Linked DNA regions of Homo sapiens: region 1 is linked to region 2. Evidence: fine-mapped expression QTL. A gene starts in region 2. The other region holds a variant in brackets. All regions are shown on one strand. Distances are from middle to middle.

Evidence for each region. PIP is the estimated chance that this variant, and not a neighbour inherited with it, causes the effect.
Region 1: its variant is the best candidate, but not a certain one, in a credible set for the expression of LHFPL5 in pancreas (GTEx, PIP 0.65).

Annotation. Positions count from the first base shown.
Region 1 is chr6:35,781,581-35,786,104 of GRCh38, reverse strand. All of the region lies in intron 1 of CLPSL1 (colipase like 1), which reads right to left. Among named protein-coding and RNA genes, the nearest start is that of CLPSL1, 2.8 kb to the right of the region's middle. RefSeq lists an enhancer at 3,474-3,975. The variant C/T (reference allele first, on the strand shown) is at 1,987.
Region 2 is chr6:35,803,690-35,807,689 of GRCh38, reverse strand. It overlaps LHFPL5 (LHFPL tetraspan subfamily member 5), which reads right to left and starts at 2,338. Exons shown (of 4, transcript NM_182548.4): 1 at 1,608-2,338. The coding sequence starts at 2,019. RefSeq lists a silencer at 2,300-2,469.

The sequences.
Region 1 (4,524 bases), 22 kb after region 2:
TTAGTAGAGACGGGGTTTCGCCATGCTGGCCAGGCTGGTCTCGAACTTCTGACCTCAGGTGATCCACCCGCCTCGGCCTCCCAAAGTGCTAGGATTACAGGCATGAGCCACCGCGCCCAACCCTCTTTCTTTCCTTTCCTTTTTTTTTTTTTTTTTTTGACAAAGTCTCACTCTGTCACCCAGGCTGGAGTGCAGTGGTGCAATTATAGCTCACTGTAGCCTCAACCTCTAGGTTCAAGCAATCCTCCTGGCTCAGCCTCCCGTGTAGCTGGGACCACAGGCACACACCACCATGCCCAGCTAATTTTTTTATTTTTTGTAGAGATGTTACAGGTAGTTAGACAGGCATGAGTGGGGTAGGAGAGGGCTCTCCCCCACCCACCAGGAATGTCAGGTGATGGTTCAACAGTTATCACATTGCCTCTCTAAAAATGATAATTTGGCAGTTAGGCTCCAGGGAGAGACAGGCTTCTAATGGTCCACAGCTGTTAACATTAAAGTGTCCATTGAAAGCAGGGGCCAGAGAGAAGCAAAAAGGGCTTCCAATAAAATCTCAGGTGTTGGGTGAGTGAGCCCGGGGAATGCACATTAAGAGAAAAAATGGAGGAGTATGAATTTCCGGGGACAGGGCCAGGCATGGTGGCTCACGCCTGTAATCCCAGCACTTTGGGAGGCCGAGGCGGGCAGATCACGAGGTCAGGAGATCGAGACCATCCTGGCTAACACGGTGAAACCCCGTCTCTACTAAAAATACAAAAAATTAGCTGGGCGTGGTGGCGGGTGCCTGTAGTCCCAGCTACTTGGGAGGCTGAGGCAGGAGAATGGCGTGAACCCGGGAGGTGGAGCTTGCAGTTAGCTGAGATTGCACCACTGCACTCCAGCCTGGGTGACAAAGCGAGACTCTGTCTCAAAAAAAAAAAAAAAAAAAAATTTCCAGGGGCACACTCCACAGGAAAAGGGAACAAAGCCTCAGATGGGCATGCGTACAACTTCCTAAACACCCTGCATGTGCTCACTTCCCAAGGGTAAGGAGGACACTGCGCATGTGGTCAGCTCACCCTAAGGGAAGAATCAGGGGAGAGAGGCACACGACACTGGAGGTAGGCAAGACTGTTAAGGGGTAGGACCAAGGTTAAACACTGCACTTGCCCTTCAAGTTGCCCACTTGGGACTCTTCCAAGTGTACTTTCCATTCTTTCCTGCTCTAAAGCTTTTTAATAAACTTCCACTCCTGCTCTGAAACCTGCCTCAGTCTCTTTTTCTGCTTTATGCCCCTCAGTTGAATTCTTTCTTCTGAGGAGGCAAGAATTGAGGTTGCTGTAAATGCATACAGATTCATTGCCAATAACTCAGATACCTTCCACCAGTAAGAGACAGGAGTCTTGCTTTGTTGCCCAGGTTGGTCTCGAACCTCTGGGCTCAGACAATCCTCCCACCTTGGCCTCCCAAAATGTTGGGATTACAGCCATGAACCACCACACCTGGCTTGAATTTTAAATTTTGTTGAATTTTAATCAATGTAAATCTAAGTAACTATATGTGGCTAGTGTAAACCAAAAATAAAATTTGAAGCCTCCCACCACCACCAATCCACAGCCATCTCAGTCGACTCCTTCCTTGGCCAGGGCACTCTAAAATTTAACCTGAAAGACTGGTTCAGGCCATGACGGGAAGTGGGGGTTGGACATGCCTCATTAATACCCCTCCAGCATTAACATTAACAAAGACCTTAAGTCTGATCAGAAACATGTACAATCTATTTTCTATGAAGCCTATTACTGGAGGCTTCATCTGCATGATAAAACCTTGCTCTCCTCAACCCCTTATCTTAACCCAGACATTCCCTTCTGCTGATAATAGCTGTTCAACCAACTGCCAATCAGAATTTGTTTAAATCTACCTATGACCTGGAATGGAAGTCATGCCCCCCACTTCAAGTTGTCCCACCCTTCCAGATCAAACGAATGTAAATCTTACAGGTACTGA[C/T]TGACATATTATGTCTCCCCAATGTGTATAAAAGCAAGCTATACCCCAAAAAACAAAAAACAAAAAAAAAGCAAGGTGCACCCCAGCCACCTGAGGCTGTATCACAGGTGTGTCCCTAACCTTGGCAAAATAAACTTTCTAAATTGACTGAGACCTGTCTCAGATATTTTGGGTTCACACTAGTAACTGCACTATTGGACACACACAGCTCTAGAGAGGGAAGACAGGGAAGAGATACATAAGTGAAATGATACGGTATCACAGAAAAAACGTTGAGCAAAATAAGTCAGATTTTTTTTTTTTTTTTTTTTTGGAGATAGAGTCTCGCCGTCGCCCAGGCTGGAATGCAGTGGTGCGATCTCGGCTCACTGCAAGCTGTGCCTCCCAGGTTCACGCCATTCTCCTGCCTCAGCCTCCTGAGTAGCTGGGATTACAGGCACCCGCCACCACGCACAGCTAATTTTTTTTGTATTTTTAGTAGAGACAGGGTTTCACTGTGTTAGCCAGGATGGTCTTGATCTCCTGACCTCGTGATCTGCCTGCCTCGGCCTCCCAAAATGCTGGGATTACAGGCATGAGCCACCGCGCCCAGCCCCCCTTTTTTTTTTTGAGACAAAGTCTCACTCTACTGCCCAGGCTGGAGTGCAATGGCACTTTCTTGGCTTAGTTCAACCTCTGCCTCCCGGGTTCAAGCAATTCTCCTGCCTCAGCCTCCCAAGTAGCTGGGATTATAGGCATGTGCCACCACACCCAGCTAATTTTGTATTTTTAGTAGAGATGGGCTTTCACCATGTTGGTCAGGCTGTTCTCGAACTCTTGACGTCAGGTGATCCACTTGCCTCGGCCTTCCAAAGTGTTAGGATTACAGGCGTGAGCCACTGCGCCTGGCCCAAATTTTTTTTTAAAAGTACATACTGTGTGATTTCATCATACAAAGTTCAAAACTAATCTATAATAATGGAAGTCAGGAGACAGTTGCCTTTGGTGCTATTGACTAGGAGAGTAAGAGTGAGGCTTTTGGGGTAATGAAAATGTCCTATATCTTGTTCTGACGGTAGTGATGAGGGGGTCTGCATAGGTTCGAATCCATTGATTTCCATGTAAACTCAAGATCTGAGCACCTAGTAAGGTGTGATTTTTACCACATATGTTATATACATAACAATAAGTAATATTTATATTATATATGTATAATCCTATTATGTACGATTATGTGCTATAAAGAAAATAAGGCAGGAAAGGAGGATTGGCTATAGCCGCCTCCCGGCCTCCCTGCTTCCATCCTTGCCAGTGACCTCCCCCAGGTACCCCCTCACCATCCCCACTCTCACTTCCACCTCCCCAACCTCCTCAAGTCAGTTCTTCCCAGAATAGCTAGAGGAGTCTTTTTTAAAAGATAATTCCCACAATGCCATTCTCTGGATTCAAAGCCATCACTGGGGCTCTGAATCCACACCTGGCCTGGCCCCAGGGCATTTGCGCTTGCTGGCCCTCTGCCCAGAGCACCCTGTCCTGCACTCTTTGCCCGGCTGCCTCCCCCTCCTGCCTCAGGCTGAAGACTTCCTGGACACCAGCAGAGCAGTCCCCATCACCTGGTTGTACTTTGTTCACAACACTTATGACTCTCTGAAATCATCTTATTTATATGTTTAAAAATAATTTATTTCCCCCGCTAGCAACCTCAGCTCTGGGACATGGATCTTCTGCTCTCACGTTCACTGCTATATTTCTTAGCCCCCTTGGACTAAAGTCCTTACACATTGCAGGTGCTGAATGCATAACTGTTGAATAAATGAGAATATTGTAACTGTGTTCCATTTATCTCTCTGAGCTCATCTCCCATGATTTCCACTCTCTCTTACTCCTCTTTGCTATTCCTTGAATATGCCAGCACATTTCCGCCCCCAGACCTTTGCCCTGGCTGTTCCCTCCACCTTGAATGCTCTTCTCCCAGAGACCCCCCTGCTTTGCCGGTTAGGAAGGACTTCCCTCCCTTTAGGTCTTTGCTAAAATTTCACATTCTTAGTAAACTCTTCCCTGAGCACCCCATTTAAAACTGCAAACCCTGGCCAGGTGCGGTGGCTTACGCCTGTAATCCTAGCACTTTGGGAGGCCAAGGCGGGTGGATTGCTTGAGGTCAGGAGTTCAAGACCAGCCTGACCAATACGGTGAAACCCTGTCTCTACTAAAAATACAGAAAAAAAAATTAGCTGGGCGTGGCAGTGGGTGCCTGTAATCTCAGCTACTCGGGAGGCTGAGGCAGGGGAATCGCTTGAACTCAGGAGGCTAAGTTTGCAGTGAGCCGAGATTGCCCCACTGCACTCCAGCCTGGGTGACAAAGCAAGACTCTGTCCCAAAAAAAAGAAAAAGAAAAAGAAAAAAAAAAAAAACACCTGCAAACCCTTCTCACACCACCACTCCCACAGCTCGATTCTTATTTTCCCTTTCCTTGCTTATCACCTGAGATAGATGCTATTATTAATAGCATCTATTGTAATGTTTTACTTCTTTGCCTCACACACTAGAGTGACAGCTCTA
Region 2 (4,000 bases):
GGGGGGTGGATATAGCTCTCTGGGGTCCCCTCCAACTCTGCAGTCTTGAATCTGCATGTTTGGTGGTCTGGGATTCAGATGCCTGTTTCAGTCTCCCTCTTAAAGATGACAGCACTTCTCATTCTGACCAATGAGATGGTTTCACTCTAGTTTCCAGTCCCCGGCACTACTCCTGGACATCTCACCGACATGGACAGTTTGTGGCCCCTGAGGTGTGCAGGGACCAAGGTACCAGAGGCTGCAGCACAAGGTCTTAACCCTCTTCCTGGGCTACAGAGAAGAGCAAGACCACTTGGCACAAGGACCAAGAAGCCTTCCTGAGCTAGAAGCAGGAAAAAGGACCAGGGAGGTTTTGCCTCAAGGCACAAGTAGCTGCCTACCCCACAGTTTTATTTGTTTTATTTTATTTATTATTATTATTATTATTTTTAGAGACAGGGTCTTTCCATCTTGCCCAGTCTAGTCTCAAACTCCTGAGCTCAAGTGATGCTCTCTCCCAAAGTGCTGGGATTACAGGTGTGAGCCGCTGTGCCCAGCCCCCACATTGTTTTAAAGGACCCTAGGCCAGGTGCTGTGGATCACATCTGAAATCCCAACACTTTGGGAGACTGAGGCAGGCAAATCACTTGAGCCCAGCAGTTCAAGACCTGCCTGGGCAACATGACAAAACCCCGTCTCTACAAAAAATACAAAAAAAATTAGCTAGACATGGTGGTGCGCACCTGGAGTCCCAGCTACTTGGGAGGCTGATGTGAGAGGATCACCTAAGTCCAAGGAGGTTGAGGCTGCAGTCAGCTGAGATCATGCCACTGCACTCCAGCCTGAGCCAAAGAGTGAGACTCTGTCTCAAAAAACAAACAAACAACAACAACAACAAAAGGACCCTAAATAGCTTCCTCTACCTCACAAAATATCACTCCATTTGCTGCCTTAAGTATAAAATCCCATGATCAAGGAAAAAAGACTTTCACTCCACAATGAAAGAGGGGAATTTAGATGAAAGTTTCTATAGGCAAGGTCATACCCTGCATAATAGTAACACTCCAAAATCAGCAAGAGACCTTAGAATCTGAGAGCAGTTTGGAGTGGGAGAGAGAGAATGAGGACAGAGTTCTGGGCACTCTTAAAAAGAACAAAAGCCCAGAGGTGGGAGATGAAGGCATCTAGAATGTGCTTGACTGGTGTCACTACTTTGTGCTAGGGTTGAGTCCTATTCCCACATGGCCAACAATGGAAGCTTCCTTCTTTCTCTCTCTCACAGCTGCAAAAACTGATGTGATGGCCTGGGAATCAGGACTGGCAACTGTGTGCTCCTGGGCAAGTCACTTCCCCTTACAGATGAGGTTCTGGGCTCAGATGAGGTTCTGGGCTCAGAACCTCATCTGTAGGATGAGAGGGTTGGACAGCTTGGTCTCTAAGGTCTTTTCTGCCTCTGCCATTTTAAGATTCTCAACTCCTCAGAATCTTCTGCAGAGCACTGAGTAGGACTGGGCTATAGGAGAACAGCTAAATTTAAGGCCCAGAGCCCTGGCAGAGGCTGGGATGGTGCAGCTGCAGCTGTGGCCCCGGGGTGGGCCCCTGCCTGCCCTCCCACCATCTCTGCTTACCCGCAGCCAGCTGCATCCATGCACAGATCTTATAGACTGTGGCCGTGTTGCAGATGAAGAACAGGCTGAAGCAGATGATGGAGCCAATGATGAGGAACATGCCCAAGGCCACAAAGAACATGGCAGTCTTGAAGGCTCTAGAGGGGATGGAGGAGAAGTCTAGGGGGCCGCCCTTGCAGATGAGCTCGGAGGACAGCACGTTACCCACGCAGTAGGAGAAAAGGCCGAAGTAGCCTGCCTGCGGTGTGTTGACGCTGTCGCCGATCCAGTAGGGCTGGATGAAGAGGGCCATGACCAGTACGGAGAAGCAGATGGTGAGGGTACCCCACATCACGCCCACGGCTCGCGAGTTCCGCACATAGTTGGTATGGTAGATCTTGGCTGCCTCCTGGGCCGGCAGCAATTTCACCATGGTGAGGGCAGCAGGCCCTGGGCTGGGGTCCCGTGGGCTGCAAGTCCGTAGCTTTGTGGATGGAGGCCTAGAAGCAGGTCACTCCCCAGCGGGGTTTGGGGAGGAGGCTGAGGTCAGGGCACCAGGTGAGGTCCCTTCAAGGCAAGGGGAAGAGGCTTAATAGGACAAGGACAACCTTGATTTGGTCAAGGAAAGCTTGCCAGGTGCCTGTGTCCGCTCTAGCCGAGGCTGTCTCCAGTCTCCTGCCTCCTCCCAAGCCCACCAGGGCCTGCTGGCGCCGCCCTGCCCGTCTCCCTCTTCCCGGCTCACGGCTCCCGAGAGCCCCGCCCCCTCCTCCGTCCGCGGAGGGCGCCGTTTCAGCACCGCGGCCAGCGCCCCGGGGTTCCGGGCGAGGGGCGGGGCCTGCAGCAGAGGCGGGGAAGGGGCAGAGCTCCCACTACAGGCCCCCGCCGCGGGGAATCGGAACACCGTTCACCTTCCTGAACCGAGATGACAAGAATTGGGAAGGTGGGGATGTGACTGACACATTCCTACTGCTCAATTCCAGCAGCAAAAACGCTTTCCCCCCGCAAAAGCGCTGTCCACATCCCATCCCACCCCGCCCCTGCCTGGCTCCCTAGTCGCCTTCCCAGAACCTCCAACTCCACCACTCCGGAGGTCAGCAAAGCCTTTCCTGGTTGCCTTCTGGTCACCGGTTTTTCGTCCTTAGCATTCAGTCAACGATTTCTAAAAGCATACTATGTGTTAAGATTATGTTGGAGGACATCTAAGCAAAACCACAGATAAAAAAGACAGGGCCCCCGTCCTCAAAGACAGTGAAATATTTACATATATAATATACGTATATATGTAGTCTATATAAATATATATATAAAACGCCTGTATATGCAGACTGATTGTGTGATAACAGAAGCAACTACAAAGTATAGCAGACAACATTCTTTATGAGCCTTCTCAGACCTGAACATATGTGTTTTGTCAAATACAATGCCTTTCTCCCCTTGTTTCTATTTGTTTGTTACATATTTCCCCATTTAAATATATATATGTTTTAATATATTATATATATACATATTTCTCCTGATTTTATAGGTAAATACATGGCTAGTGTAAAGAACTAGGAAAATTCCACTGGGCGTGGGGCTTACGCCTGTAATCCCAGCACTTTGGAAGGCCAAGGCAGGCGGATCATGAGGTCAGGAGATCGAGACCATCCTGGCTAACACAGTGAAACCCCGTCTCTACTAAAAATACAAAAAAATTAGCCGGGCGTGGCAGCACGCGCCTGTTGTCCCAGCTGCTGGGGAGGCTGAGGCAGAAGAATGGTGTGAACTCGGGAGGCGGAGCTTGCAGTGAGCCGAGATCGCGCCACTGCACTCCAGCCTGGGTGACAGAGCAAGACTCCGTCTCAAAAAAAAAAAAATAATAATAATAATAACACCAACGTCCGGAGCTAAGGAAAGACAAGACAATCTTAAAAACATGGACTTTGGGGTTCAACAGGCCTGGATTTGAATGAGCTACTTACTAAGTAACCATCCATGGACTTAACCTTCCTTCCGGAGCCTCAGTTTCGCCATCTATTAAATGCAGGAAATGCACTTACGCCGGGCGTAGTGGCGGGTGCCTGTATTCCCAGCTACTCAGGAGGCTGAGACAGGAGAATTGCTTGAACCCCGGGAAGCAGAGGTGGCAGTGAGCTGAGATCGCACCATTGCACTCCAGCCTGGGCAACAAGAGCAAAACTCCATTTCAAAAAATAATAATAATAATTTTTTTTTTAAAGTGCTCAAAGGTACATTAGTGGTCTCTAATCCCAGCACTTTGGGAGGCCAGGCAGTCCGATCACTTGAGCTCAGGAATTCTAGACTAGCCTGGGCAACATAGCAAGACTCCCGTCTCTACAAAAAATACACAACTTAGCCAGGCATAGCCAGGCATGGTGGTGCTTGCCTGTAGTCGCAGCTACTTGGGAGGTTGA